Regions from separate parts of the Homo sapiens genome. Here regions 2, 3, 4, 5, 6 and 7 are each linked to region 1. The links come from fine-mapping of genetic effects on gene expression. A gene starts in region 1. Each other region holds a variant in brackets. All regions are shown on one strand. Distances are between the middles of the regions.

Region 1 (4,067 bases):
CTGCAACCTCCGCCTCCTGGGTTCAAGCGATTCTCCTGCCTCAGCCTCCTGAGTAGCTAGGATTATAGGCACCCGTCTTCATGCTCTGCTAATTTTTTACTGTATGTTACTTTATTTGAGATTATTATAGTGATGCCTGCTTCCAACAGCCTGAAGGGGTGCTGATGTGGCTGCCCCGCTAGAAGCCTCTGTAGCCCAGGTGTTGGAGTGTGAGGGTAATGACCAGGTTCTCAGACTCACAAAAGAAACAGTTTGTGTCACAGTAGCCCTTCCAAAAACAAGATTTGACCTAAGGGATTCTATTGTGTGTTTTAAATAAGAAATCTCAAGTATTTCTTGCAAACCTTTGTGATCTATCCCTTTCACACTTCTGATAAAATTCCAAATGATAGTGTTCAGTATAAGAAATTGGGTTCTTCCTAACCTCACTCTTTCCCCAGTGACAATAAAAGTCACCTCGACTCAAATGATTGTGGCCCTAAAAGCCCATATTTCTGGGGGAAATCTGAAATGTTTACTTCAAGTGACAGTCTGAACTGCTCATGGCCCACTTCACATTCACAGGTCATCCTGCCCTCTGCTGAGTTGAAAAGCCCAAGATAGAAGAGGGCTCAATATTAGGAAACCCAGTTATTTATTTATCTTATTAGCAGATCGAAGAGGAAAATTAAATGGTCATTTTCATAGATCTTGAAAAAGCGTTTGATTTAAAAATCCATTTTTATTTAGAAATAAGTACTTGAATATTCTTACATTTAGTTTTATTATATTTTTATTTAGAAATAAATACTGTAATATTCTTATATTAATAAGAATAAAAGCCACCTCCTTAACATATAAAACATTTCTCTCTCACACCAAAAGTTAACATCATGCTTAATGGGAAACAAGACAGGAATTTACACTCTTGTCATTATTTAATAATGGTCAGAATGTCCAGGCCTGGCAGTTAGATAAGAAAAAAATAGGAGCTATAGACATAGGAGAAGAAGAATATAAATGTTCATTTTTTCAAACGTGGAAAATTCATGAGAATCACCTGAAAAACCATGCCAAATAATAAGATAATTTGTTAACAGATTTCCATACATCATACAATAATCAGTTGAAAGATGTAGGGAAGAAGAGATTCCATTTACAAATGTAAAAAAAGAAAAAGTAAAAGAACTAGAAATAACCATAATAAGAATGTACCAAATCTATATGAAGGAAACCTCAAAATACTCCTAAGAAAAACAAATGAAGACTCAAACAAGTATCTAGAACCCTGTTCTTGGATTAGGAAGACTCAAGATCATAAATAATACTCACTAACATTTACTAAGCATTTACTATGTACTCAGACACTCTTCTAAGTATTTTACTACATAACTTGTCAAAGATGTAAATTATCCCTAAATTAATTTGCAAATTTAACATAAATTCAATATATTATGCATATACTACCTATTCAGAAATAAAATTTAATTTTAAAATCTCAATTTCAATAATCCAAGCTGACATTAAAAAGATCATCTAAGATTCTTGATGCCCTTGAATGAGGAAGAGAGAGTAAAATGATCACTAGCTTGAGTCTTTGACCCTTCTATCAGAAGGTGTTTTCTTTGCTCAAGAGGAAGACACCCCCTCAGTAACTCACTTTCCTCAAAGGATCACTTGTCAACCTCAAGTTGCCCTACGAGCCTCCAGAAAAGGGCCAGAATCTCCACAAAGACTCACTTGACATACTCACAAAGCTCTGCTATGAACACTATTTTCCCAACCTTAAATCTCAGGAGGACTACCAAATGCAGGCCAGTTAACCCAAGAGGGAAAGTGAAGTCTACACCAACATAGATTAGATTAGGCTCTTTAAGCATCTCTCTTTTCCAGGGCTCCTACCTGGTCCCCCAGGGCTCCCTGGAGCGGCATCACCTCATTCATTACTGCAGCTAAGCCCTCAATTGAACAAGCCTCCCAGGGGCAATTTCCTTTCTGGGGGACATTGTCATTCAATGGTATTATGCAGACCAAGTAGGCAAGCAAGGTTCCAAAGCAAAATTGAGTTCCTACCTGACATGGCACCCAGGAGAGCCAGGAGAATGATTGCTTCCTGCATACTTGATGGTCACAACTGTGCGTGCTTCCAGCACATTAGCCACAGCCTGAATCCCGTCTCACACCCAAAGTTTATTCCAGAAGCCACTCAGCTTCCCCTCCTGGTTTTGTTGCCATGCAAGAAATCAAACAGAGGCTTTGGCGGTAGCCAAGGGAGACTCCAAACACCACAGGACTGTTTGTTCTTTGATTACCTGCTTCTGTGACTGCATAGCACCCAAGAGACCAACCAGCCAGTCCTGGTCAGCTCAGAGTTTACCTTAAAAGTCCACACTCACCAAGTGTCTCAACCAAGAGCTCCAAAAGAGAAGTCAAAAGAGAAAACCGAGACACGGAGACCACACTAAGAGCTGGACGTGCGTAGTCCACCCATGATGGTCTCGGTCGCCCTGTAGCCAGGCTTGTGGTCATTTCCAGAAACAGGGGTGGGAAGTGGGAGTTTTTCTGCTGTCCTGAATCAATGAGTAGGATTCAGACTTGGGAATTAACTGGCACTCGTTCTAAAGACAAGATCTGAGAGCTGGGAGCAGACCCCTCCTCGAGGCTGACTTGAGGTGGAAGACTGCCCTCTGACTCCACCCCCCACCACCGCCCCTCCAGCCCTCGAAGAAGGCTGTGAAGGAAGGTTACTGGAGTGGTGAGGCTTCTGCCCACTGGGGAGTGATGCAGGTCTTGCCCTTCACGATGCCTTTCTGTTCCACACAGCCCTGTGCCAGGGCACAAGATGTGGCATGTGAACAAACGCGGGCTGGGGTCTAGTCTCCACTGAGAAGGAGCAACAGCAGAGCAGAGAGAGAACGGCCGAGCAGTGGCCTGTCCCCTTGACATGGTGCAGTAAGAGAAGTAGTGGGCACAGTGGAAGGCAGCTGGGCTTGGACCACCTCTCCCATTCCTCTGCCAGCTAGGGGAGGAGAGGCCAGCAGCCCAAGGCTGGGGGCAGGAATGCAGTGAAGAAGGTGGGGAGTTGAGTCAGAGCCTCCCAGTCTGGACGAGACCCCACAGGCGCTCTGAAAACTACACATGCCCCACAGGTGAACCAGCTTTTAGCACCTGCTACACGGAGGTCACCAACGAGGGATAGAGGGAGACAGTGTTATGGAACCAAACTGGGTCCACTCACCCTGTGCAGTAAAACCGGATATCCACACCGAGGTTTTTGCAGCAATAGAAAGGAAGGCATTTATTTGCAAGGGTGCCAAGCAAGAAGGGCTCAGAGAGTGAGGGGTTTGACCCAGGCTGCGCCACCTGCCAGTGTCCCCTGTGTCCCCTGCGTCCCAAACCTAGGGTGGCAAGGCTGCCCTTCCCTTCCACCACATCCAAACATTTGACAAGCCCTTTCCAGCCTCCAGGGCCTGCTGCCGGGCCCCTTCCCATGCTTGTTGCTACTGCCCTGGCTTAAGGTCCTTGCCTCTGGCCTGGGCTCTGGCCCGCAGCACATCCTACAGAAACTTAGGTTAATTTCCCCAAAGTACAATTTTGGTCATTTACTTTCCTGCTCAAAATAACAAGAACCTTTCCCTTAAGAAAAGTTGACTTTTCTTGTGTAAAGCATGAAGGAAAGGTAGTAAGATTAGGAAAGCTAGTCGATAGGTCTCTGTTCGAAGCACATAGATAGTAACAACAACAACAAAACAAAAGGGAGTGTTGCTGTGTCACCTTTGGCAATTTACCTAACCTTTCAGAATCTCAGTTCCACTCACTTCTGTAAATCAGGGAAAATAATACCTGCTACACAGTATCATCGCAAGCGATACACAAGAGAAAGAAGTGAAAGAAACTGGCCCATACTATGTGTTTTAAAAATACTTTTTTTTTTTTTTTTTTTTTTTTTGGAGACAGGATCTCACTGTCACTCTGTCTCCCAGGCTAGAGTGTAGCAGCGCGATCATAGCTCATTACAGCCTCAATCTCCTGGACTCAAGCAATCCGCCCACCTCAGCCTCTGGAGCAGCTGGGACCACAGGCGTGCA
Region 2 (4,067 bases), 33 kb before region 1:
TGCTGTTTGAAATAAAGTCGACTGACTTAAAAAAAAAAAGACCGTCACACAGATCATGCTATCTGCTTGGGGATGGAGCCCAATATGTTCCTCTTTCAAACCTAAAATGAGAACCAGAGAGTTCCAGGCTGACCTCTGGGTGCATCCCACGCCAGCGAGGGTCATGTTCTCTCTCTCTCTCTGCTAAAAGTCAGTTTCTGTATTTTGGAAGATGTGATCCAAACCAGATGGTTTACAAGCTCTGCCCCTGGGGAGGACTTATTATTTTCCCCTTTGAAACCCCATTAACCTTCCTCCCCTCCTCCCAGATGGGACTTGTGGGGAAGGTGTCAAAGAATGCATCTGCTCCAGCCCTGCAGCCATCACCTTCCTCTGGGGGTTCTTGAAGAATCTGCAGAGCTGTGTGGGCCCATACCTGAGCCTGAGTCCGGGCTGGGATGTCATAACTGTTAATAAGCTGCCTAGACTTTGCTCCAGGAGCCACCTGTCAGCCCAAAGGCACTGAGCTCTCCTTCTGAACCTAACCCAGCATCAGGTGCTGATGGAAAGCATTACATAGCCATTTAATAGCAGCAGATAAATTGAGGGTCAAGGATTGAAAAAGGAACTGCAGCCCAGGCTGCAGGGCTGGAGCAGACGCATTCTTTGACACCTGCAACTGGACTGTAGACTATGTTAACATCCAGAAGTTGTGCAATTGTGGTGTTTGCCAAGTGGCACCAGGTTAGTCTGGGAGTGAGGTTGCCTTAAATACCTCGCAATCTTGGAGTAGTTTTGCAAGTCCTCTACCCAGCTCTGAGGCCTAATGGTCTTTTATTGGTGGAGTATCCTGTGCTGAATCTATTCATAACCGTTCATGCTGTTAAAGGTGATTTTGCCTTTCCTTGTGGCTGGCTTCTATGCCCATCTCAGGGACTGGGGCAGGCAGAGGCTCTGTAAGCAGTATGCCAGGCTGTTTGCAGTGCCATCTACTAGCTCAGAATCCCATCTTTTCCTCCTAAATCCCCATCTACAATAGGCTCAGATCTTCATTTTGTGCCTGGGATAGTGCCAGGCACATTTCCACAAACTACCCTCCACCCGATGCATTTACCCTTCCCACCTCTGCTGGACAGAGGAGCTGCCAGACACAGCCGGATCACTTTTCTGGATCCACCATGGCAGGAAGAAACTTTAGAGCAGCCAGTAACAGGCAGGCACCGTGAAAATAGCCCTCTCCTCGGTGTGAGGATAACATACTAGGAGCGGGCGTTAGGGAGTCGTGAGTGATGATGCATGCTCTGGGACTCTGCTGTTACTAAAGCGCGGCACTTTATTTTAAAAGCACCCTCTGCATGTGCACAGTGCAGGCCACACCCCGGGGCATGTGTCCACCCCTTCTCCCCACCATATCCAAAATCCCATGGTGCATGTGAATGTGTGGGTACAGGAGGCAGAGGCAGCAAAGGTGGAAAACAGCAGTCCAGAGGCCCAGATAAAGACTCTGAAGAGCACGTGCCTCTAATCTTTCCTGCAGGCCACAGCAAAGGGCATCCCTCTGCCTTGTATTAAATGTGCCGGAGGAGACGAGGCCGCCTAAGAAGGACGCACCTGCGGCCCAGGGAGTCCTGCATGCCCTCAGGCCTACCTGGTAAAGCGAGGGACTTCGTCGTTGAGGTTCACGATGTTCACCTGGAGCTCTGTGGAGGCTTTGAGGCCTCCACTGTCCCTCACCTCCACGATGAGATGGAAACTGCCAGGGAAACATTCCACGTGAGAGAATCAAGCTTTGCTGGCACTACTTCAAAATAGGATGGGGAAAATCATGGGGTGGGAGGAGTGAGAGCAGACCCTGCCCCTTTGGTGGTGAGCCTCTCCGTAATGCCCCCACAGTCTCAGGGCCTGCAGGGTGACCTTTCTCCCCCCGTCTCCAAACCCGCTGGCTGCTTCTCATTCTGCAGGGGCTATTCACCACCATTGTCCCACCAGG[C/T]CAGCATCTGCTCAAGCGCCATGCTGCACATCTATCCCGGTGTTTTTCACAAGATCTCTGGAAAGTGCATATCACTCCCACTGGAGGGAGTGAGGCCCCCATGGCTCACATGGCTAGCTCTTGTTCCCACACCCGACGCAGAGCCAGGAGCCTCACCTGCTTCACCCCAAGGCCAATGTGTTGTCATCCACTTCCCCTCATCAGCCCCTTTGCTTGGATGGCTGCCTTTCCCAAACAAGATGGGGTCTGAGAAATCTTGTATAGATCACCCTTGACATTAATGACTACATCTTAGAAAAAAAATGCCATCTTCCATTTCAAAAGGCATCAAGCCAACAGGGTCCAGATGGTCACCTAATCAATAAAGACAACACTCAACCAGATAAGGGCATAATCCTTTACTACCAGTCTTCGCCAGTGGACTCAAGGGCCATAAAACGAGCAGGACTTCACCGGCTCGACAAGGCCATCTTGACAGACCCTGTCTTGCTGTCACTTGTAATCAGCACCCAGCATCTGCCCAAATCAAAGACTCTTCCTTGCAAGACATTGATGACCATCTGGATGTGGCCAAGACACTCTCCGTGTCCACATCACCGTCCTTGGTCTGGTTTATTAACCTCTTTTCTCATGATGTTAAATGTTACTTTGTTTGATGTGGAATGTTTAATTTATAACATTTATGTGCTGATGAAGTATACTATGTATGGTTTACAATACTGACTGACCTGTGGAGTGGCTTGAGCCTATGTGCTCTGACTACTGAGTTAGCAAGAGGTCTAAGGAGAGTTGCCTCCTTGGGAATTCCATGTAGCTCATGGCTTTTAGGATTGAAGTAGCATCAGTGAAAACCTGACCTTATGGAAAGACACAAATGTGCATGGACCTGGTTATGTCTGACCTTGCACTGCTCATGACACTCTTGTACTTGGGCACCCTCTCCCATACTGTCATTCTTGTTCTCTGGAGACCAAAAGAGGCCTCCCAGACAATTGCCTTATTCCCCATCCCTCTCTGGGGTTCACTACCATCTGAACTTACAATGACGCTGTAGACTGCTCAAGGGGCTCCCCCCAGCTGCCCTCAGGTTGCACTGTGACCTATCCCTCATGTTTTCCTTGACCCTCAGATAAACAGTACTTCATGCAAGGTCAATAGCAAGACTACCTTCTGTGTCCTGCTTCAAAGTCCAATTCTGTTGTGGAGAAGAGGGTGCCATTAGCAGACATTCTGAAGCTCTTTGGGGGAGAAATCAGGAAATACTAAAAAACAAGGGAAAAAAATTGATGAAATCAGCCCACCTGCCCACCCTTCCCCAGAAGATGTGTGTGCTCATTTCCTATTTTATGTTCTTAGCCCATGGAACGTTCTCGATGCATCAGGATGCGGTTCAAAGAGCAGTTATCCAATTTAATCGCTCTTGAATACAGAAACTTCTGGCTCTGTTGGTCTGAGCCCTGGTTGACCACACCCTGAAAAGCTGGTGAGTGGATCTTGTTCTAACTACAGAAAGCATATAAAAGGCCCCTGTCAAGGCAGGCTCTGCTTCTGAGTCCAATCTTCTTATCCCTATCACTGTGTTCTCACTCCTGGACAACTTCTGGCTTTGATTCTATGCCTTGGCTTTAACCAACACTGTATTTAAATACAGTGTATTTAATACAGCTACTACCCACTAGGTAATAGGACTATACCTATTACCTATTTAATACAGCTACTATACCTATTTAATACAGCTACTACCCACTAGGTAATAGGACTATACCTATTACCTATTTAATACAGCTACTACCCACTAGGTAATAGGACTATACCAAAGTGAGTAGGATCTGGTCACTACCCTTAAAAACAACTTACAATATAGCAGGGCGCAAAATGCATGAGCATCAGTTATTGAAATGCCTGAAGGAACAAGGGACAAGGGTGAGCTGAGAATGAAACATAACAGGGCTTACAGTCCAGGTTGGAAGCCAGTTTAGGGATTCAGAAGAGCTGTTTTGAAATCTAATCCCTGGCACGTGGCATAAGGAAAGTCCTTCCTACATCTTTGGGTAGTTGAGAGTCTTTGTCATCATAGGCTTCCAGCCCAGCTCTCTTG
Region 3 (4,067 bases), 98 kb after region 1:
GCCAGGTGGTCTGCAGCATCAGTTAAGACTGTGAGGCCATGTTGATGCTTTCAGCCGGCGGTTCCCAGGGGCCTGCCGTCTCTGCTGCAGAATTGATTTAGAAAAGTTAGGCAGATTTGTTTCTGTATGGTTTTCCGGGTTGGTTGCATTTATATCCTTCAGGTTAACGTTTCGTTTATGACATTTTGTTTCATTCATGACATATTTCAGAAGTAGGCATAAGATGGTAGTACTCAATGCAGTGAGACCTTGTCCTGGTCAAATCCCTCTTCTCTAAGGACCCCACACACTGAGGTGGCCCACTATTCACATCTGGAGACAGTGGTCACTGAGTGATTGCAATAATCAAACATAGCCGTAATGGAGAGGGAGAGCTTTAGCCAGTGGGTTCTACTTTTTCAGAATATTGTAGGAATGGCAAGGACTGACTTCTGTGTGTGACTGTCTCCTAAATCTCCCGGTCCAGTGTTCTGCTGATTACGTGCTCCCAGCTGATGCCGTTTGGCTGGCATTCTCTTACTCTCTCCTGTGGTAGAGCTCAGACTGCCAAATGGACCTGGATTTGGACCCTGAGGCGCTTGAACTAATGATGAAACCTCAGGAAATCCCTTCTTGCAAGTGGGCTGAGGCTACAGCGGAGCATCCTTAATATTCAGGGGCTAGACCTGGCTGCCCTAGTCGTCTATAAGTGAAGCTGGAATTCTGCTGTGGGGAAAGCAATGTTTTTATGGAGACACTTTATCCTTGTACCTGTGGTTTCTCAACACAATTCTGCTTGCCAATTTTAAGGGATCAAGTGCTTACAGAAGAAATGGAAACCAAATAAATACTCTCCAGGGCAGGACGAAGTGGCACCAGGTCACCATAATGGGGAAGATAAAAGTGAGTCGATGACAGGCTCTTTGAACACAGAAGCACTTACCGGTGTACCTGATTCTGTGATGCTAATTGTAAATCTGTGAACATTAATGGTGTAAGGATACCCTTAACTGTAGGGGGAGTGTGAGTTACGTGACCTTACCTCAAGGCATTGACAGGCCACAGAGTCCTGGGGTGGGGTGGGGACACAGGACACCCAGTCCGATGATATTAACCACAGGTGAGTTCAGCATTCCAGGGGTATGGAAGATGCTGGAGACATGGTCCCAGTTTGGTTATATCAGACCAAGGTGATAGTCCAGTTCTCAAAAAGTATATGAGTCACAAAAGGACAAATACTCTGTGATTCCATGTATAATGAAGTTCCTAGAGTAGTCAGATTCATACAGACAGCGAGTAGAATGGTGGGTATTCAGGGGCTGGGGGAGGGGAAACGGAGAGTTAGTGTTGCCATGATACAGAGTTTCAGTTGGGGAAGATGCAAAAGTTCTGGAGATGGACTGTGGTGATGGTTGTACAACATTGTGAATATACTTAATGTCACAGAACTAACCGTACACATAAAAAATGGTGAAAATGGCCCGGGTGCAGTGGCTCACGCCTGTAATCCCAGCACTTTGGGAGGCCAAGGTGGGCAGATCACGAGGTCAGGAGATCGATACCATCCTGGCTAACACGGTGAAACCCCATCTCTACTCAAAATACAAAAAATTAGCTGGGTATGGTGGCACGTGCCTGTAGTCCCAGCTGCTCAGGAGGCTGAGGCAGGAGAATCACTTGAACCCGGGAGGCGGAGGTTGCAGTGAGCTGAGATCGCGCCACTGCACCCCAGCCTGGGCAACACAGCGAGACTCTGTCTCAAAAAAAAAAAAAAAGTTAAAATGGTAAATTTTATGTTATGTGTATTTTACCACACACAAAAAGGTTCATTGGCATTGCAGGCTTGGGAGTTTAATGGAGCATTATTTAAATCTTGACCATTTATTGGCTGTGTATTAAATTAAGCCTCAATTTCTACTTTTCTTTTCCAGAGTAGGAATAATAGTACCTATCAGAATTGTTGTGGAAATAAATGAGATGCTATCTGGTATAAAGTAGGTACTCAGTAATGGAAGCCTTTGTTGTGATGATCGTTGTTTTTACCGGGCACTTGGGTCTTCGCCTTTGTCTTAAGAGCTGCCACTTCCAGGGGACAGACTGCGTTCTTACTGCTCCGGGGGATGCCCGGGGCTCACCAGGCATCTTTTGTCAACTTGTATGTCTCCAGTTCTTTAAGGATGCCCCGAATAAAGACAAAGGGATTGGACTGGTGTCCCTGTACTGTTAGTTTCAAGAGTGAATCTGGGGCTGGGCACTGTGGCTCATGCCTGTAATCCCAGCACTTTGGGAGGCCCAGGCGGGTGGATCATGAGGTCAG[G/C]AGTTCGAGACCAGCCTGGCCAATGTGGTGAAACCCCATCTCTACTAAAAAAAATACAAAAATTAGCCAGGTATGGTGGCATGTGCTTGTAGTCCTAGCTGCTTGGGAGGCTGAGGCAGAAGAATTGCTTGAATTCGGGAGGCGGAGGTTGCAGTGAGCCGAGATTGCACCACTGCACTCCAGCCTGGGGGACAGAGTGACACTCCGTCTCAAAAAAAAGAAAAAAAAAAAACGAATGAATCTGTTTCAATGTTTTGCAAAGTGTGTTCATTCTGGAGACCCTGCTGTGTTGTCCTGTAGGGTACTTCGTGCCCCCGGCCCCAGGCTGGTCATACTAAAACGAAACAACCGGGAGTGAAGCACAGGAACCAGGAATGTCCTTTTTTTTTTTTTTTTTTTTTTTTTTGAGACAGGGCCTCTCTCTGCCACCCAGGCTGGAGTGCAGTGGCATGATCAAGCTCACTGCAGCGTCGATCTCCAGGGCTCAAGCGATCCTTCTACCTCAGACTCCTAGGTAGCTAGGACTACAGGCGTGTGCTGCCATGCCTGCCTAATTTTTTTTGACTTTTAGTAGAGACAAGGTCTTGCTATATTCCCCAGGCTGGTCTCAAACTCCTGAGCCCAGGTGATCCTCCCACCTCGGCCTCTCAAAGTTCTGGGATTACAGGTGTGAGCCACCACACCTGACCAGGAACGTGCATTTTAAACAGGCTCCTCAGGTGGCTCTGTTGTTTCCTGAACTTTGAGAACTACTGTTTATTGGTTGAGAGAAGTGGTTCTCAACCCTGCCTACCTTGAAAATTCCTTGGGAAGCTTTTTAAAAGCAAATATGCCAGGACCACCCACAGAGATTCTGATTCTATAGATCCAGGTTCAGGGGTTCTAGGGAGCTGCTTATGTATTTCCTTTTGGAGTTTTTTGTTTGTGTTTTAAATTTATTTTTCTGGTACCTTTTGGGCTAAACACAGCCCAACTTATGTGTTTTTTTGTTTGTTTTGTTTTGTTTTTAAGTAACAATCCTAGCTGTCTTTTATTGGGCATTAACTAGGTGCCAGGCACAGGGCTAAATGTGCATGTTCGCATTTAATCCTCATGACCACCCTGTGAGGCAAATCCTGTTATCAACCCTATTTCAGAGATTGGGAAGCTGAGGCTCAGAGAGGTCAAGTGATTTACCCAAGGTAACATAGCTGGGGAATAGTAGAGCTGCCCTGAACCCCAAGGCAGGCTGATTCCAGAGACTGTGCTCTAAGCACTGTGTCCTGATGTCTGTCATCCTAGGAGCAGGGTTAGGACTAAGGGGAAGCAAGCAGGCACCCAGGACACCTGTTTAAGGAGGGGCTCACGTGGGCTTCTGCAAGTGCGGAGTGAGTGCCCCTTAAGTGTTGCACCTGGGCACCTGACTTCACTCATCCTCTCACCATCCTTGGCCAAGAGAGCTTGTTCTTTAAGCAAAATGGCAAGGCTGAACTACCTTTCATTCCCCCTTGACTGTGTAAGCCAGTGGCCTCCTGATAGGGCCCTGGGTCTCCCCATCAGGGAAACGCTCTCTCATTCCAAGGCCCCAGCTTTGGGGCCTCTGTGGCCAGAGTCCTGGCCTCAGGGAAATCACAGGAGCTAATGCAAACTGTGTTCCTTTTTGGGAGAAGGTGTTAGCAAAGATGGTTGCCAAGCAACTCCAGGGGCGTCTATCTAGAGTGATGATTTCTCTCTTTTTCCTCCTTTTGAACATCTTCTAGGCCGCTGTTCAGTTTCCCTCATGGCATTGGGA
Region 4 (4,067 bases), 41 kb after region 1:
TTAAAAAATCCTAGGGATCTTCAGAATTAGGCTAAATCTGCTTTGTGCTCTATAAATGGAATAACAAAGCCTAGATGACAGCACACCTTTTTACAGCATGGTTTTACTGAATATTTTAAGTCCACTGTTGAGACCTACTCAGAAAAAAAGATTCCTTTCAAAATATTACTGTTCATTGACAATGCACTGGTTACGTAAGAGCTCTGATGGAGATGTGTAAGGAGATTAATGATGTTTTCATACTTGCTAACACAACATTCATTCTGCAGCCCATGGATCAATATATAATTTCAACTTTCAAGTTTTACTATTTAAGAAATATAATACATTTCATAAAGCTACAGCTGTCATAGACAGTGATTCCTCTAATGGATCTAGACAAGGTAAATTGAACACCTTCTGGAGATGATAACAATAGTTATGAGCTAAAAAAATCACCAAAAAATCTCATAATGTTTTAAGAAAGTTTACAAATTTGTGCTGGGCCACATTCAAAGCCATCCTGGGCCACATGGAGCCTGTGGGCCATGGGTTGGACAAGCTTGATCTAGGCTCTTCTTAGCTTGGTTTTGTTTGTGTGCTTCTCCATTCATTCCAGCTGTGTTGCTGCCAGAACCCCTGACCTACCCTCAGCCCAGTCCTCAGTCTTAATTCCTATCCCTGCTCACCCAGTTCTTGCCAACCTTATTCTAGCTAGTTATCCTCCTAACCAGCATTATGGGTACCTCCAGCTTTGATTCCACCCCTACCTGTGTACCCAGCTACACTCAGCCAGGCCTTACTCAGCCCAGCCCAGAAGAATAAGTCAGGGCCCTGTCCTAGTATAATTCCGAGTCACAACAGTTTGAGCCATGAAACAGAAAAACCCATGACTCCTTCTGCTGCTGCTGGAGGAAACCATGTCTTCTCAGGGAAAATTTGTCAGCTACCCAGTGGGAGTGAGAATCGCCAGGCAGAGCTCCAGGGATCTTCGTGGCAGTCGTTACATCTTCTGTCTATGAAAGTGAAGCAATGCCTTCCAGAAATCAGGTGGATGCTATGGCATAGTAAAAATAAGAGGCCATTAACTGAGCTCCATGTCCCCAAGTCCCAGTGACAGTCTACTTAGGGGCCTCGGAGAACCTGGGAAGGGTCGAGGCATTCTCATTTGAGTCAAGGCTAACACCATGAATGCCAAGGCCATTAATGATTCTATATTTGAGAGCATGTTCAGTCCTCAGAAGCTGTGATCCTGATTTCCTTCTCCCCGATGAGCATTTCCACCAGCCTCACAATTATACCTCTGAGCTGGTGCAGGGCTACTGATCCCATGGTACGCACCCATCACCCCCACCCCCCTGATGCCCCGCATCAAAGAGTTCATCCAGACCAAGTTTTTAGCCATAGTTTATTATCCATTCATCTCCTTCAGTCCCCTCTGAAAAAATAAAACCACGGAGGTGAAGCTGTAAAATGGCTAGAAGGCTTTCAATGATACAGTCATGCATGACTGCTGCTCATTCTTAGCATGTTCTCTACTGGATTCACCTGCAAAGGCCCTACAATTGCCCAGATACATAACAGGCAGAAGAAGAGAATAACACTCTGGGCTCAGCCTAGTCACGAAGCAAGGTTTCTATGTTTGGCAAATAACAGTTTTATTACAATTTGGCTTCATACATAATTATCCACAGTTAAGAATGCACCAATTTGTGATCATGAATATTTCATCCTTGTGACAGTTGTATTTTCAAAATAAATTATTTAGTCATCCTCCACTGTATAAAAGGTGTATTCATTTCCCATTGCTA[C/T]TGTTACAATTCCCACAAACTTAGCATGTTCAACAACATATAGTTATTATCTTAGAGTTCTATAGGTCAGAAGCCCAATACAGGTCTCACCAGGTTAAAATCAAGGTGTAGACAGGGATGTATGCATTTTGGTAGCTCTGCAGAGAATACGTTTCCTTCTCTTTCCCAGCTTCTAGAGCCTGCCTGCATTCTTCGGCTTGTGGTCTCTTCCTCTATCTTCAAAGCCAACAATGTTGAATCTCTCTGACCGTTCTTACATTGGTTGCGTTTTTCTCTGTGACCACAGCAGGGAAAAGTTCTCCACTTTTAAGAACTTGTGTGATTACATGAGTCCCACTGGGATTATCCAGGATAGTCTCCCCATCTCAAAATCCTTCACTTATTCACATCTGCAAATCCCCTTTGTCATGTAAGGTAATGTATTCCCAAATTCCGGGGATTAGGAAGTGAATATCTTTGGGAGGTCATTTGCCTACTGCAAAATTAAAGGATAATCTTAACACCATTCATACTTTAAGTGCCTCTCATAATGCCAGGGCTTGTGAATTAGAGTTTATGAGACTGGTATCATATATCTCAATTTTTTAAGGGAAAGACCATCTTTCACCTATTAGGCTTATCATCAGCACAGAACCAATTATTTGTCAAAGAGTATTTGCTGAAGCCTACACTATGAGATAGGTCTACCATGTACAGCACAGTAGTGCATGATCTTTTAGGGAAGAGGGTTTGAAGTGTATGCTAATTTCACAGTGCTCCATCCAGAAGGCCCTGACATGCTTCTGGATTTACAGGTTAAATACAAAACTGTCGAAGTACATTTTTAACTGGTGGAAGTCAAATTTCTGGGCCATGTCAACTTCAAACATGGTATCCAGATGGGTCAACACCATGCTCTGTGATGTGCCCCTTGAAGATCAGGCAGCCCCAGGTGCCAATTCTTCTACAAAGGAGATCTGGATTACTGCTGTCCAACAGAACCTTTTGCAGTGATGGAAATATTCCATAATCAGCACTGTTCAATACAGCAGCCACTGGCTTTATGTGGCTACTGAGCATGTAAAATGTAGCTAGTGTGACTAAGTAACTAATTTTTAAATTTTGATTAATTTGAATTTAATATAAATACATATGGCTACGGCTACCATATTAAATAGGGCAGATTTAAACCCTTTGGGAAAAAGAGAACTTGGCTTGGCCATCAAGGTCATGTTTTGATCCTGTTGATCCCATCTAGAGGGATGCAGAATCAGGCATTCCATTCTTTTTTTTTTTCTTTTTACTATATTTTAAGTTTTACGGTACATGTGCACAACGTGCAGGTTTGTTACATATATATACATGTGCCATGTTGGTGTGCTGCACCCATTAACTCGTCATTTAACATTAGGTATATCTCCTAATGCTATCCCTCCTCCCTCCCCTCAACCCACAACAGGCCCCGGGGTGTGATGTTCCCCTTCCTGTGTCCATGTGTTCTCATTGCTCAATTCCCACCTATGAGTGAGAACATGCAGTGTTTGGTTTTTTGTCCTTGCGATAGTTTGCTGAGAATGATGGTTTCCAGCTTCATCCATGTCCCTATAAAGGACATGAACTCATCATTTTTTATGGCTATATACCCAAAGGATTATAAATCATGCTGCTATAAAGACACGTGCACATGTATGTTTATTGCGGCACTATTCACAATAGCAAAGACTTGGAACCAACCCAAATGTCCAACAATGATAGACTGGATTAAGAAAATGTGGCACATATACACCATGGAATACTAGGCATTCCATTCTACTGTGCACGAGTCACTGCAAACTCAAGCATTTCCAGAGTTCTGAAAGCTCAACTAAGAACCAAGCCTACTCATTCAACATCAACACACACAGCACCCTGAGCGTCCAAAACCACGGGGGTTATGTTCTAGACCACAGGACTGGCTACCTGGCCCTGCTCAAGGCGGCAGGATCAATGGGCAAGAATGTGCAAGAATTTACCACAACTCAGCCTTGCTGTGTCAACCACAGAGGCCAAGTACCCCTAACACCCAGATAGAGTAATTGTGCCTTACTTCTTTGTTCATTCCCACCATTACATTTTGTAAATTGGAACTTCTAGGAGGTTAGAAGGATATGCTGATCAAAAAAAGGGGACATATTCAAGGAGTGTCCCTGGGTCAACCCTTTATTCAGTCTCTGCCACATGTCTAGTAACTGTGAGTGATGGGTGCATCAGTATAATCCTGAGCCTCCCAAGGTACAGCCTTTCACTACTATTCATCAT
Region 5 (4,067 bases), 59 kb after region 1:
CCATGACCAATGGCCCTGGGGTAAAATGAGGAAGAGCACAGGAAGCAGTAAAAGCACACATGAATTCTGCTCCTGGTGCCAGAAACATGATTTTGTTTATCACAGGGCTGCCGCCTTCTGTCCCCCAAACACTGGCCTCCCTTACTCCCCTCCAGGCCCCAGAAGCAGTATCAGGACTGATAGGGTTTAGGGAGCACCTCAAGCACAGCTCTGCACCCTGCACCATGCCACTAGTTACTCCAGATGGGTTATGTCATCCCACGTGGTCCTCAGGGTACTTCCTATGTGAAGTGCTGGATGTGGAGATGTCTCCGCATGTCCCTGGAGGAGGTAGCAAAGAAGACCCGGGCTCTGGAGTCTCCTGCGTACGCTGGAATCCAGGATTCCTTCCTCTCTCCCTGCCTCAGTCTCCTTTTTATAAGAATATTAATACTAAAACCCCCTCCTAGGAAGATGGTAGAATGTACCAGTTAAGAGCACAGAGCGAGACTCTGTCTCAAAACAAAAAAAAAAAAAAAGAAAGAAAAAGAGCACAGAGCCATATGATCAGTTTGAATCCAGGCTCTGACACTAGCTGAATATAACCCTCAGCAAGTGATTTAACCTTTCTGAGCCCACATTTAACCTTTCTGTAAAATGTAGGTAATGGTAATTACTACTTCAGAGGAATATGAAAGAATAAAATTGGTTGAGGTATACAAAATAATTTAAACTATGCCTGGCACATAGTAGGCACCGTTTTATGTGTTGGCTGTTACTGTTATTATACATGCAAAATGCTTCTAGTGACCGTCAATTGATGTTAGCTATTATCTCCCCCCACAGTTATGAATACAACTGCAAGCAGCGACCTGGAAAATCTTGGTCTTGTCCAGCATATGCAAAGGGCAGGAATTCCGTGAGGAGCTCTTTGCATGAGAAACTGAATGCAAATCCTCCCAGCCCTTCCATCCTTGCCGAAGCAAGAAGGGAGGAAGAGAGTGAGTACAAACCATCTTAGACGCAGCTGAGCTGCGTTTCTCAGCCCTTAAGACAAAGAGGGCTTCATCCTTTGAATTTCAAATAAAATAAATTCCCAAGCTTAACTTTAAGCTGCATGTAGACAAATTAGCTCTAACGCCTAATCACTGAGGATGTGTTTCTTAAGTGAATTCACATGAACAAATAGGAAACATTCTTCTTCCTTTTCTAAGTAACTCAGCCTGGGAACAAGAGCTTGACAGAAGCGGGGATGAGCCTGTGTGTGCACATGGAGCCTGGAGCTCCCAGGGAGAGGCCAACGCTCCCCTTCCCCTCTGCCCACTCTTTATAGCTGCTTTTCTGCTCTTTGCCCTCCTGAATCATTTTCTCTTATTGTCATATTTTCAGACACTGAAAAAACTACCTTGGCAAATTCGAGATGAAGTCAGAAATAGACTCAAAGGCGTTTATTAAGAAGCATTTCTAAAGGGAGAAAAACAAATTACAGAAGCAGAAGCTGCGGTTGAGCAAGAAGAGATTTGGAGGTTTCAGGTAAAGAAACAAGCATGATAGATAAAAACACAAATAGGAGACAGGACCCGTGAATCACAAAGTATTACATTTATTACTTAAC[A/C]TTCATTAAATGTTCACTGCATCAAGCATGCATGCATCTTATTTAATCTCTGGAGGAAAAAGGGTAGCTACAATTATCTTTTATCTTTTTATAGATGGGGAAACTAAAGTATATAAAGGTTTAGGGATTTCCTGGCTTATGACTGTGCCCCTTGTGAATCAGGAAAGACTGGAGAAGATTCAGAAAAGATCCAAAAAAATAAAGAAGGGATCTAAAACCCAAGATTTTTGGCCAGGCATGGTAGCTCACACTGGTAATTCCAGCACTTTGGGAGGCCGAGACAGGCAGATCACCTGAGGTCAGGAGTTTGAGACCAGCCATGGCCAACATGGTGAAACCTGTCTCTACGAAAAAAAAAAGAAAAATTAGCCAGGTGTGGTGGTGCGCGCCTGGAGTCCCAGCTACTCAGGAGGCTGAGGCAGGACAGTCACTTGAATGTGGGAGGTGGAGGTTGCAATGGGCTAAGATAGCACCATTGCACCCTAGCCTGGGTAACAGAGTAAGACTCCATCTCAAAAATAAATAAATACAATAAAATTCAAGACTTTTATGAAGAGTTCTGTTAAAAGTCCTAGAATTGTTTAGCACAGTGCAAAAGGAACTGAGGATGGGAGGGGGAACAAAAGACTTTATTTCCTAGTCTCCCTGGCAACTACCCTATGTGCCAGCCAATAAGCTGTAAGCAAAGGATTGTGTGGCACTTCCAATGAGTCTCCTTAAAAGAGAAGAGGCAAGCCTTTCTTCTGCCCCTTCCTCCTGCCTAGAATGCAGATGTAATGGCTGGAACTCTAGCAGTCATTTTGGACCTTGAGGTGAACTTGAGAAAAGGAGCCATACCTTAGGACGTGGAGCATCAAGTTAAATGTCTGGGTCCATGACATAGTGGAGCCACATACCATCCCTGGACTGCCTATCTCTGGATTTCTTTTATATGGAGGAGAAATACACTTCTATCTTGTCATAGCCACTACTACAGCATACAGAGTAAACTTAATCCTAACAGATGGACCCAGGCTTCTTCTGACAAGCATTTTGCAACAACAAAGGAAGCCAGACTTGGAATAAAGCTGATACCACAGTAGCAGAGCAGAAACAAAAAACCCAGGTATTTCCATACATCATGAAGCTGCTGGGTCAAGCTTCTCCTGAAGCTGACATTTTCATGAGACTTTCCAGTTACATGAACCAATAAATTCACTTTATTTTTTAAGCTAGTTTGAGTTGGCAGTTTTGCTACTTACAACTGAAAGCATCATAGTTGACATGGCATTTCATTTCCAATGAAAGCAGTATAAACAGAAGTATATTTAAGTGCATCTGGGCTTTCCTTAGAGTGGAGTCATTAAATGCATACATTAGGTCTGAGTGATTTTTTAAAATTATAATTATGCGCCACATAACATTTCAATCAGTGATAGGCCACAAAGACAACAGTGGTCCCATAAGATTATAATACCATATTTTTACTGTAACATTTCTATGTTTACATGTTTAGATACATCAATATTTAACACTGTGTTACAGTTGCTACAGTATTCAGTACAGTAATATGCTGTACAGATTTGTATCCTAGGTGGGTAGTAGGCATCTAGGTTCGTGTAGGTACACTCTATGATGTTTGCTCAATGATGGAATCACCTAATGACACATTTCTCAGAACATATCTCCATTGTTAAGTGACATTACTGTACTTAAAATTTATTGAGTCCCTAGTATGTGCCAGGTATTTGACACAAATTATCACTCATCTAGGCAACAGTACTGAATGGCAGAAATTGTTATTCCCATTTTACAAAGGAAGAAACTGAGGCTCAGGGGTTTACATAAGTTGCCCAAGATGATATAACTAGTAAGGACACAGCTAGGAGTAAAACCCAGGCCTGCAGAGGTCCTATAGACATAATCTTTGCATTACACAGAGCCCTGGCCACAGCTACCTCCTAGTCCTAATGTTCTGCAAGTCTTGCTTTTTAAGCTCTGTTTTTGTTTTGGTTTTGGTTTGTTTTTTGGGTTTTTTTTAGACAGAGTCTTGCTCTATTGCCCAGGCTGGAGTGCAGTGGCATGATCTCAGCTCACTGCAACCTCCACCACCCAGGTTCAAGTGACTCTCGTGCCTCAGCCTCCCAAGTAGCCGGGATTACAGGTGCACACCACCATGCCTGGCTAATTTTTGTATTTTTAGTAGAGACAGGTTTCACCATGTTGGTCAGGCTGGTCTTAAACTCCTGACTTCAAGTGATCCACCTGCCTCAGACTCCCAAAGTGCTGCCATTACAGGTGTGAGCCACTGTGCCTGCTTGTTTTGGGTTTTTGTTTTGTTTTGTTTTTTGCATTTTTTTTGTAGAGATGGGGTCTCGCTACATTGCCCAGGCTGGTCTCAAACCCCTCCCACTTCAGCCTCTCAAAGTGCTGGGATTACAGGTGGGAGCCACTGCGTCCAGCCTTAAGCTTTGCTTTTGGAAACCTTGCAGCT
Region 6 (4,067 bases), 86 kb after region 1:
ATGTTAAAATATGGAACCACTGATTTGCTTCACTATAACTGAGGTGTCCTGACTTCTGATGATAAGCCACCTTTGATTTTTTTGAGTGGTTTACAGTAGCTCCCAGAAGAGGAGACAGCATTCTGGAAGCTCAAGTCACTGACTCCCAGCAAGTGGCCCACTCACATGGCTACTAGCAGGATTAAGCTCCTCACTGGCTGTTGTATTGAGGGCCTCAGTTCCCCACTGGCTGATGACCAGAGGCCTCCCTCAGTTACCTGCCACACAGTCCTCTCCATAAGGCAGCTTACAACATGGAAGTGGGCTTCCCTTAGAGCAAGACAGGGCATGCAAGAGAGAGTGAGAGCAACAGAAGTGACAGCAGTTTTGTACCCTAACCTCAGAAATGACATCCCACCACTTTTGCTATATTCTCTTTGTTATCAGCAAGTGACTAAGTCTAGCCCACACTAAAGAAAAGAGGATTACACAAGGGCATGAACACCAGGAGGTACAGACCTTTGGGGCCACATTAGCTGCTGCCTACACCTTCCTTGCATGCACAACAACACAGGAATAAACATCAAAATAGATAATAAATAGAGGGAAAATAGGGAAGCAGAAGGGAAAGGGAAAGTGTTCCAGCATCTAATTACTCATGCCTCAGAGCTCTCGCATTCTCTCTCCCCACCTCTAAATCTAGCCCAACAGCACACCCTCTGATCAGGTGCTCTCTTCACAGTCTCACACCTGTCTCCTCTTCTCTACCTGCATAGCACCACCAAAGTTCAGGCTTTCATCTCTTCACACCATGAATATTGCAGCACTACTTTTCTAACCAGGCTCCGTACTCCAATCTTTCTAACTCACACTTTTAACTTATCTTTATGGTACAGAAAGCCCTTCAGTAGCTCCCCATTGTCAAACAAAATCCAGACTCTTTAGGCTGCCGTTTGGTGCCTTCCATAATTTGATCCAGGCCTGGGTATCAAAATGCATCACCCCCAAGCCCCCAGTAACAATTCTCCATCCCAGGCAAACCATGCTCAACACCCAAACACACCATGTTTATACTCAGCTTGAAGCCTCTGCTAATACCATTATTCCCCCTCCCTCCGCAAGACCAGTCTTCACCTTACCATTACAAATCTTTGGCAATTTCCAAGATGCAGAGCAGAGCCCATCTTCTGTTACGCAGTTTCTGTTCACTCCTAACTAGATTTCGGTTCCTCTATGAACTGGCACAGCTGAGAGACCACCCCACCCACTGCACAGGCCAGTCCCTGTGTACCTGCCTGTTTTCCCAAGGAATCGGTAAGTTTCACAACTTCCTTCTTCCAGAGACCACCAGACTGCATCTCTGTGAGGGTGAGGATGGGTCTCACTCATCTTTCCCTCCTGACAGGAGGGCACAGCTGTTCCATGACAGGCAATATTGGTTGACTTAAGATGGACAGATGGAAGGAAGGAAGGAAGGAAGGAAATGTCAAGCCCAGGGTCTAGCATATAACAAGAGGTCAACAAGTAATACATATTTGTTAACACCACCAATTCTTACAATGGGAATTCTTCACCCAGCGACACCTTAGCTATGTAGGAGCCCTTCGAAAGAGAGCAAAGGCAAATGCAGTTTATCTGAGTCTGACACAAACAAGCCGACTCACACAAACATCACAACTAAAGGCAAATCCGCAGCTCCTCCTTCATCGCCCATCCTAACACTGGCTTAGCGATACAGGGTGCCAAGCTCAGGGAAATTATTAGATGGTTCAGCCAGGGCAGAACTCAGTCAGTACAAAGCAACTTCCAATCAGTGCGCTTCAGCTGTGACAACTTGGGAAACAGCAGTGGTGAGAGCTAAAAGGGTGCTGGCGAAAGAGAAAAAAAAATATGTCGCTTGTGGGGTGAGGGCGGTGTCCATATAGTTTAGATAATTCTAGTAAACAAAAGGATTTGTTAAAAAGAAGTAACAGAAGACTTTTTAAAGCCTTCTTTAAAGGGTGAAAATCTCAACTAAAGCACCCAACGTCCAAAATCCAGAGGAAATCTAGCGCTCCCTTTCTAGCTGGCTAGAGCAGTTAAGCCTGAAGTGAATTCTCCCAGGAATCAGATTCCTGGCCAAAGGTTGCCTGCGCAAACCCGGGCCACCCTCGTCTCACGGCAGGGAGCGCTGGAAACGGCTCAGGGGCTAGGCCCGTTAGC[G/A]TCGTCTTCCAAGAGCCGTAAATTCGCCCTCCCGCTCTGCTGACCCTGGAGCAAAGTCCATGCAGTGGTTCTCTGAGAGCCGGAGATACGCACCGCGCGGGGAACCCGGGGGTCCGGGGGCCCTAACTTTTGAGTTTTGCACGCCCCGCAGCCTGAGATGGGAAGGTAGCTCGTAGCGCTCCAAACTCACCTGCGTTTCAGAACGACATCTACCCACTGGTTTCAGCTCCTAGAGCAACAACTGCAGAATCTCCATGGTCCAAAGTCCTCCAGGAAAGAGAAGAAAGGGGTGACGGGGGTGAGGGCTGGGAGGCGAGGTCACCAGGGTCCCTTCCCTGGCTCGGGTGGGGGTGGGGGGCGCAACCCCTCACGGCTCCTCCCCACCAAGCCGTCGGGACCCCAGCGGGGGCGCCTCGCGTTGGGCGACAGGGACGCGGGGAGAGAGCGACAAGCTGGAAGCAAGGGCTGCCTGCAAAACTTTCGGTCCTCCAGCGGCAACTCTGCGGGAAAGACCACCCTTCCTTCGGCCCCGCGTCGGGCCTATCCCCGTGTGCCCCGACCCCTGCGCCCCAGGCTTGGGCGGCGCCGCTGCATCCCGGCTGCCGGGCGCGCTGCAGCCTTCGCTCTCCCGCACGCGGCGCTCGCCCGTCCGCGCTGCCCCTCCCCGGCAGGCGGGCGGCCCCGGCGGGCGGGCGGGCGCGGACTGCAGGTGCCTCTCTGCTGCCCCTGGCGGCCGCGGGCGCGCGAGCCCCACCGAGCCGGCTCCGGGAGCCCGAGCGCCCGCCCCTCCTCCGCTCCCTCTCCCCTCCTCCTCCGCCGCCCTCCTCCCATCCCGCCCTTCCTCCCTCCCTCCCCCTTTCAGAACACTCAATGTCGGAACGTTCCGAAGATGACGTCGGAGCGTTCTCGAATCCCGTGTCTCTCGGCTGCTGCTGCCGAAGGAACAGGGAAAAAGCAACAAGAAGGAAGAGCAATGGCGACACTGGATCGCAAAGTGCCCAGTCCGGAGGCGTTTCTGGGCAAACCCTGGTCCTCCTGGATCGACGCCGCCAAATTACACTGCTCCGACAGTAAGAACCCCACCACCTCCTCCTCCTTTTATTATCCTGTAACCTTTCCATTCACCTAGAGCCACTGGGAAAAAGTGTGTGTGTGAGAGAGAGAGTGGCCCCCGGTGTCCTCCATGCTTCTCCCTCTCTCTCTAAATAAATACACACAGAGACAGATCATCAATGCACAGGGAGAGGCCCGGCTGCCAGGGCTGTCTGTCTGTCTGTGCCCGGCTCCCCGTGGCAGCCCGCGGGGTGGGCTCGCAGCCCCACGGTGTTGTCCGTTTAAAAGGCTACTTTGTTGCTGCTTGCATAGTTTTTTGGGTACCTATCTGGGCCAGGTAGATGGAAACCCAGACTTGGGAGAAAATGTTGCATTGTCAATTTTTGAAAGAATTTCATATACAGTATTTATATCGATCTGTTTGCAAATAAACACTCTCCCTCCCCCCTTGACTTTGGCTTTTTTCCCCCCTTTTTTCCTTATTTTCTGTTTTCCTTTTCTTTTTCATCTGCAGATGTAGATTTAGAAGAGGCTGGAAAAGAGGGTGGAAAAAGCAGGGAGGTTATGAGGCTTAATAAAGAAGGTAAGTGGAGCTACTGGCATTTTAGTGTTAGCATGTGTGGCAGAATCTTCACAGGATTTCGAATATAATGTGAATTGTTCTGCTGGGTACAGAGTGACTAAGGCTTGTCAAAAATTGAGCACGCCCAGGTGACTACTGCTTCATGTTAACTTCTTTCAAAGTATAAATACAACTGGGGGGGGGGTAAAGGGGGGTGAGACTGTTGAAGGCAGAAGTTTACTGCACTTCAGTTGGACTCCACGTTTGAACC
Region 7 (4,067 bases), 190 kb after region 1:
CACATTCAGCCAGAATTCATTTTTAATTGAAACAATCTTCTACTTATTATCTCATCAAAGCCTATTTCTTGAAGGCTGAATGTCTTGGATTACATTCTCCAGAGTCACATGGTTTCAATTCATTTGTTTATTTGAAAAATATTTATTGAGCACCTGCTATATGCCAGGCACTGTTCTAATGCTGCAGATGCATTAGTGAACAAGACAAATAAGGGCCTGGCTTCTTGAGGCTTATGTTCTGGTAGGTTAAATAACATAAACAAATACATGATCAAGCCATGTGAAAAGCTGTCACAAGAGTGTCCCAGCAGAGAACACAGAAGAGTAAAAACAAACAAGGCACATTTGAGGGCTTCAGAGTAGTAGACAAGGACCAGAATGTCAGAGTCATGTAGAACAGAGTCTGAAGGTTGGGTTTTACTCTACGTGTGGTGCTAAGACACTGGGGGGTATTGAGTGAGGGAAAGGCATAATCTGGTTTCTGTTTTCTGAAGCTCACTCTGGCTGCAGTGGAGCCCAGGAGACCCGGAAGGAGCTAATGCATAGCTAGCGGTAACAGATCATCGTGGTAGCCGTGGAGATGGAGAGAAAAGGATAAACTCGAGATCTATTTTGGAAATGTAGCTGACAGAATTTGCTGACAGAATGGATTGGATTAGATTGGAAAGGGAAGAGTCAACATTTATTTAGAGTTAGGTTGAAGGAGAATGGCCAGTGACTTGGCAGAAAAAGCAGCAGAGAATGACTACACGGAAGCCAAGAGAAGAAAGCGTTTCATAGATCATGTCAAATGCCAAGAGGTTGAGTAAGACACTAAAGAGAAGAGGTCGCTAAGTTAGCAACCTGAGGGTTGTTGGCCTTGACAATAGCCAATTGACAATAGGTGATTTTATTTGTGTCTTGAGATTTTTTTCCAAGGACAGATGACTTCATTTTTGCTTCACCAACAGGCACCATTTTTAGGCTGGCAGTACCCTCAGTGTTTTATTGGCATGTATGCTGGGCTTAGCTGCCACCCAACTCAATCGTCAGCTGGCTCCTTTGCCCTCTGCATCTCTGTGACCTATAGCACTGATTACTGTGCAGAAGAGTCACTGTGAACACTAGACAGTGAGTTCCTGAAGGCTAGGACTGTTCCTTGGGCATCGCTGAGTCCCACCAGGGAGCACTTTTCCTGGCTTCTAGTAGACACTCAGAAGTGTCTGGGATAGGCCAAGGTGGGTAGATCACCTGAGGTCAAGAGTTCCAGACCAGCCTGGCCAACATGGTAAAACCCCAGCTCTACTAAAAATACAAAAGTTATCCAGGCATGGTGGCACGTGCCTATAATCCCAGCTACTCAGGAGGCTGAGGCACGAGAATCGCTTGAACCTGGCAGGCAGAGATTACAGTGAGCCAAGATTGTGCCACTGCATTCCAGCCTAGGTGACAGAGCAGGATTATGTCTCAAAAAAAAAAGTGTCTGGGATAAACAGGTGGATAAACAGGCAGAAGGAAGCACTCCTCCAATCCCAAATTCAAGTGCTGTTGGCACCTTCTGCTTCACCAATATTAGCATATATGGTGGCTGGTGCAAATTCTTATGTACTTATCCACCCCTCCCCCCTCTCACACTCTCAAGGAACAAGGACCCCTGTCAGGCTCACCATTCAATTCCCTGAGTCCACACAAGGAGTGCTGGATCTCAAAAGTTGATGCCCAATATACTGTTTTTTGTTTGTTTGTTTGTTTTGGGGGGGGGGTTGTTTGTTTGTTTGTTTTTCTTAAAAAAAAAAGAATCTTGGAAGAAAGAAGGAAGGAAGCCAGCAAGGAAGGGAAATTGGCTCACCAATTATGAATAAGCCAAATTCCACATGTAAGCAAGTACAATCATTTGGAAGACATGGCTGCTTGAAAGAGAATGACCAACTCTGTTGAGACGCAGTTGGAAAGGCATCCCTCTGTGAGCAGTGGGGAGGCCATGGCTTTGATCCCTGACCACAGCTGATTGCTGGAGGGCTCTCGCTGTAACGTGACCCCTGGCTTCTGACTCATCACTGGTGTGTCCTTGCCATACAGGCTGCTCCATTCCATTCCTCAGAGCTGTATCCACCGAGGAGAATTCGGGTAACAAACATTCCT[G/T]TATTTAAATCTGAGTAAAGAATGTTAGCAGCGCTGATTCAAAAGGTCATCTCGGAATTCTCCCTATCCTGAGCCATAAGCAGAGAAGCATCTCCCAAACAGTGCTTTCTCTGGAACAGTGAGCCCATACGAAGAACAAGGGTTTGGGTAGATGCATACCCTTGGGAAACTGTGCCAGACTCCCCCTCCCAGAGCCTCATAGCAGCTATTAGCACATTAAAGCGCCAAGAGGTCTTGGAGTCAAAAACAAAAATGCATCTATTTCACATTGGAGTCACATCGCCCTCATCCAAATTCAGCCACATGCAGTGGGCAACAAGAACAACAAAACTGCATGTTTTTCCTAAGAACGTGGGCCTAGACACTAGCTCACCCTTTCGTCTGGTGTCTGAGCAAAGAAACAAAGATGTTTCCCAACTCTGGAGGAGAAACTGGCCATGGGAAGGGCCCACTGTCCCACATACTACGTGTACTGTACTCTTTCAAGAGGAGTTTTTGTCCTACAGGATTTTCGCCTCCCACCCTGACACTAGAACCCAATCCCATGTAAGCTGCAGCATTCTGCATCAATTTTCTTTAGGGAGGCCCTCGGAGTATTCTCAAGGAGCCGATTCTTATGTCTTCATCTGGGATCACGGAGAGTTACTGACTCCTTCCTGGAGTGTCACATGCTAGAAACCTGTGTGCAGGCTTGCCCCCAGATGCTACAAATCTCTAAAGATACTTCCAAGCTATATCTTTTCTAAACCCGCAGTGCTTCTTCCCATGATGTGTAGAGCTACTTTGCCAGGCTTTCTTTCTGGGTTCCCCCCTCCCCAGAAAAAGGTGCTGTTAAACTAATGTTACATCTCACAATTAATGGCATCCTAGAATCGGGGAATACCGTTGATTGTTTGGGTAGGACCTTTCCCTTGCTCCTTTGCAGGGCCAGGCGCTTCTGAAAACTGGGTGCAAATTTGGGAATGCTGCATAGGAGACTCATAGGAAATAGATAGGTCTAGGGCAAAACATAAATTGGGGGGCATAAAGGATGAAAGAGTCAGTAAACCATTTCACTATGATGAATCCCACTTTACCTGGAAAAAATAATCTTTTTTTTTTCCAGAGAAAGCAACCATTGTCTTTGTTTTACCATGCTGGAACTACAGATGTCTTAAGATTTGGTTTCTGTTATTTGTTTGTTTATTAGCGTCATAGATACTTTGCTTTTCTCCCCCTGAATTATTTTCTCAAATTCCGAAGCCTTCTCTAGGGGTGCATTTTCCTAAGATAACAATGGCTTAGTTTACATTGTGGCTGTGGTTTTCTGCTCATCTTTATAAGTGGCTGCCTCCACCCCATATGTAATCTTCTTAAACAAGCACCTTCTTAAATGAGGCAACCCTCTTAACCAAAGCGCATTAATAATACTCATTATTAATGAGTATATGGTAGTGCTCTTCTTATTAATGAGAAGGCTGCGGGGCCGGGCGCGGTGGTTCACACTGTAATCTTAGCATTTTGGGAGGCTGAGGCAGGTGGATTACTTGAGGTCAGGAGTTGGAGACCAGCCTGGCCAACATGGCAAAACCCCGTCTCTACTAAAAATACAAAAAATTAGCCAGGTGTGGTAGCACACATCTGTTATCTCAGCTACTAGGGAGGCTGAGGCAGTAGAATCGCTTGAACCTGGGAGGTGGAGGTTTCAGTGAGCCAAGATCGTGCCACTGCACTCCAGCCTGAGTGACAGAGGGAGACTCTGTCTCAAAAAAAAAAAAAAAAGGGTTGCTGGCTCTGACTGACACCCTAATCCTGTGACCTGCATTTGTCAGCTCTGGGCATCATCCTGATAGTGACACTAGCTCCAAAAACATGAATCAAGTTTCCCGGTGCGTTTAAGAAGGCAGGGGCTAGATGGTGGCCCTTTGAAAATTTTCCTCCCACTTTCTTGGCTGAGCTGCCTTTGT

Direction of the effects. Alleles are on the strand shown, and positions count from the first base shown. SD is a standard deviation of normalised expression in the study named. Not every link is listed here.
With allele C in place of A in region 5, the expression in anterior cingulate cortex of the gene that starts at base 2,153 in region 1 is higher (moderate effect, 0.48 SD a copy in GTEx).
As copies of G replace A in region 6, the expression in tibial artery of the gene that starts at base 2,153 in region 1 goes up (large effect, 0.82 SD a copy in GTEx).
With allele T in place of G in region 7, the expression in tibial nerve of the gene that starts at base 2,153 in region 1 is higher (moderate effect, 0.48 SD a copy in GTEx).

The links.
Region 2: its variant is fine-mapped to the expression of CDHR3 in nasal epithelium (TOPMed, PIP above 0.99).
Region 3: its variant is fine-mapped to the expression of CDHR3 in tibial nerve (GTEx, PIP above 0.99). The same link has a PIP of 0.9 or more in fibroblasts.
Region 4: its variant is fine-mapped to the expression of CDHR3 in whole blood (INTERVAL, PIP 0.99).
Region 5: its variant is fine-mapped to the expression of CDHR3 in anterior cingulate cortex (GTEx, PIP above 0.99). The same link has a PIP of 0.9 or more in hypothalamus and prefrontal cortex.
Region 6: its variant is fine-mapped to the expression of CDHR3 in tibial artery (GTEx, PIP above 0.99). The same link has a PIP of 0.9 or more in adrenal gland, aorta, atrial appendage, liver, pancreas and skeletal muscle.
Region 7: its variant is fine-mapped to the expression of CDHR3 in tibial nerve (GTEx, PIP above 0.99).

Annotation. Positions count from the first base shown.
Region 1 is chr7:105,961,350-105,965,416 of GRCh38, reverse strand. CDHR3 (cadherin related family member 3) reads right to left here and starts at 2,153. Exons shown (of 19, transcript NM_152750.5): 1 at 2,053-2,153. The coding sequence starts at 2,098. RefSeq lists a silencer at 1,820-2,114 and enhancers at 1,697-2,648, 2,649-3,600.
Region 2 is chr7:105,993,915-105,997,981 of GRCh38, reverse strand. CDHR3 (cadherin related family member 3) reads right to left here. Exons shown (of 19, transcript NM_152750.5): 5 at 3,137-3,231; 6 at 1,628-1,732. LOC107986833 (a long non-coding RNA gene) reads right to left here and starts at 1,616. Exons shown (of 2, transcript XR_001745316.2): 1 at 1-1,616. The variant C/T (reference allele first, on the strand shown) is at 1,970.
Region 3 is chr7:105,863,092-105,867,158 of GRCh38, reverse strand. All of the region lies in intron 2 of ATXN7L1 (ataxin 7 like 1), which reads left to right. Among named protein-coding and RNA genes, the nearest start is that of ATXN7L1, 11 kb to the left of the region's middle. The variant G/C (reference allele first, on the strand shown) is at 2,297.
Region 4 is chr7:105,920,592-105,924,658 of GRCh38, reverse strand. No RefSeq gene overlaps it. Among named protein-coding and RNA genes, the nearest start is that of CDHR3, 41 kb to the left of the region's middle. The variant C/T (reference allele first, on the strand shown) is at 1,791.
Region 5 is chr7:105,902,587-105,906,653 of GRCh38, reverse strand. No RefSeq gene overlaps it. Among named protein-coding and RNA genes, the nearest start is that of ATXN7L1, 28 kb to the right of the region's middle. The variant A/C (reference allele first, on the strand shown) is at 1,595.
Region 6 is chr7:105,875,562-105,879,628 of GRCh38, reverse strand. ATXN7L1 (ataxin 7 like 1) reads left to right here and starts at 3,030. Exons shown (of 12, transcript NM_020725.2): 1 at 3,030-3,251; 2 at 3,749-3,817. The coding sequence starts at 3,071. RefSeq lists a silencer at 2,778-2,987. The variant G/A (reference allele first, on the strand shown) is at 2,182.
Region 7 is chr7:105,774,169-105,778,235 of GRCh38, reverse strand. The region is part of intron 3 of ATXN7L1 (ataxin 7 like 1); the gene reads left to right. Among named protein-coding and RNA genes, the nearest start is that of ATXN7L1, 100 kb to the left of the region's middle. RefSeq lists enhancers at 830-1,413, 1,414-1,997, 1,209-2,408, 1,998-2,581. The variant G/T (reference allele first, on the strand shown) is at 2,122.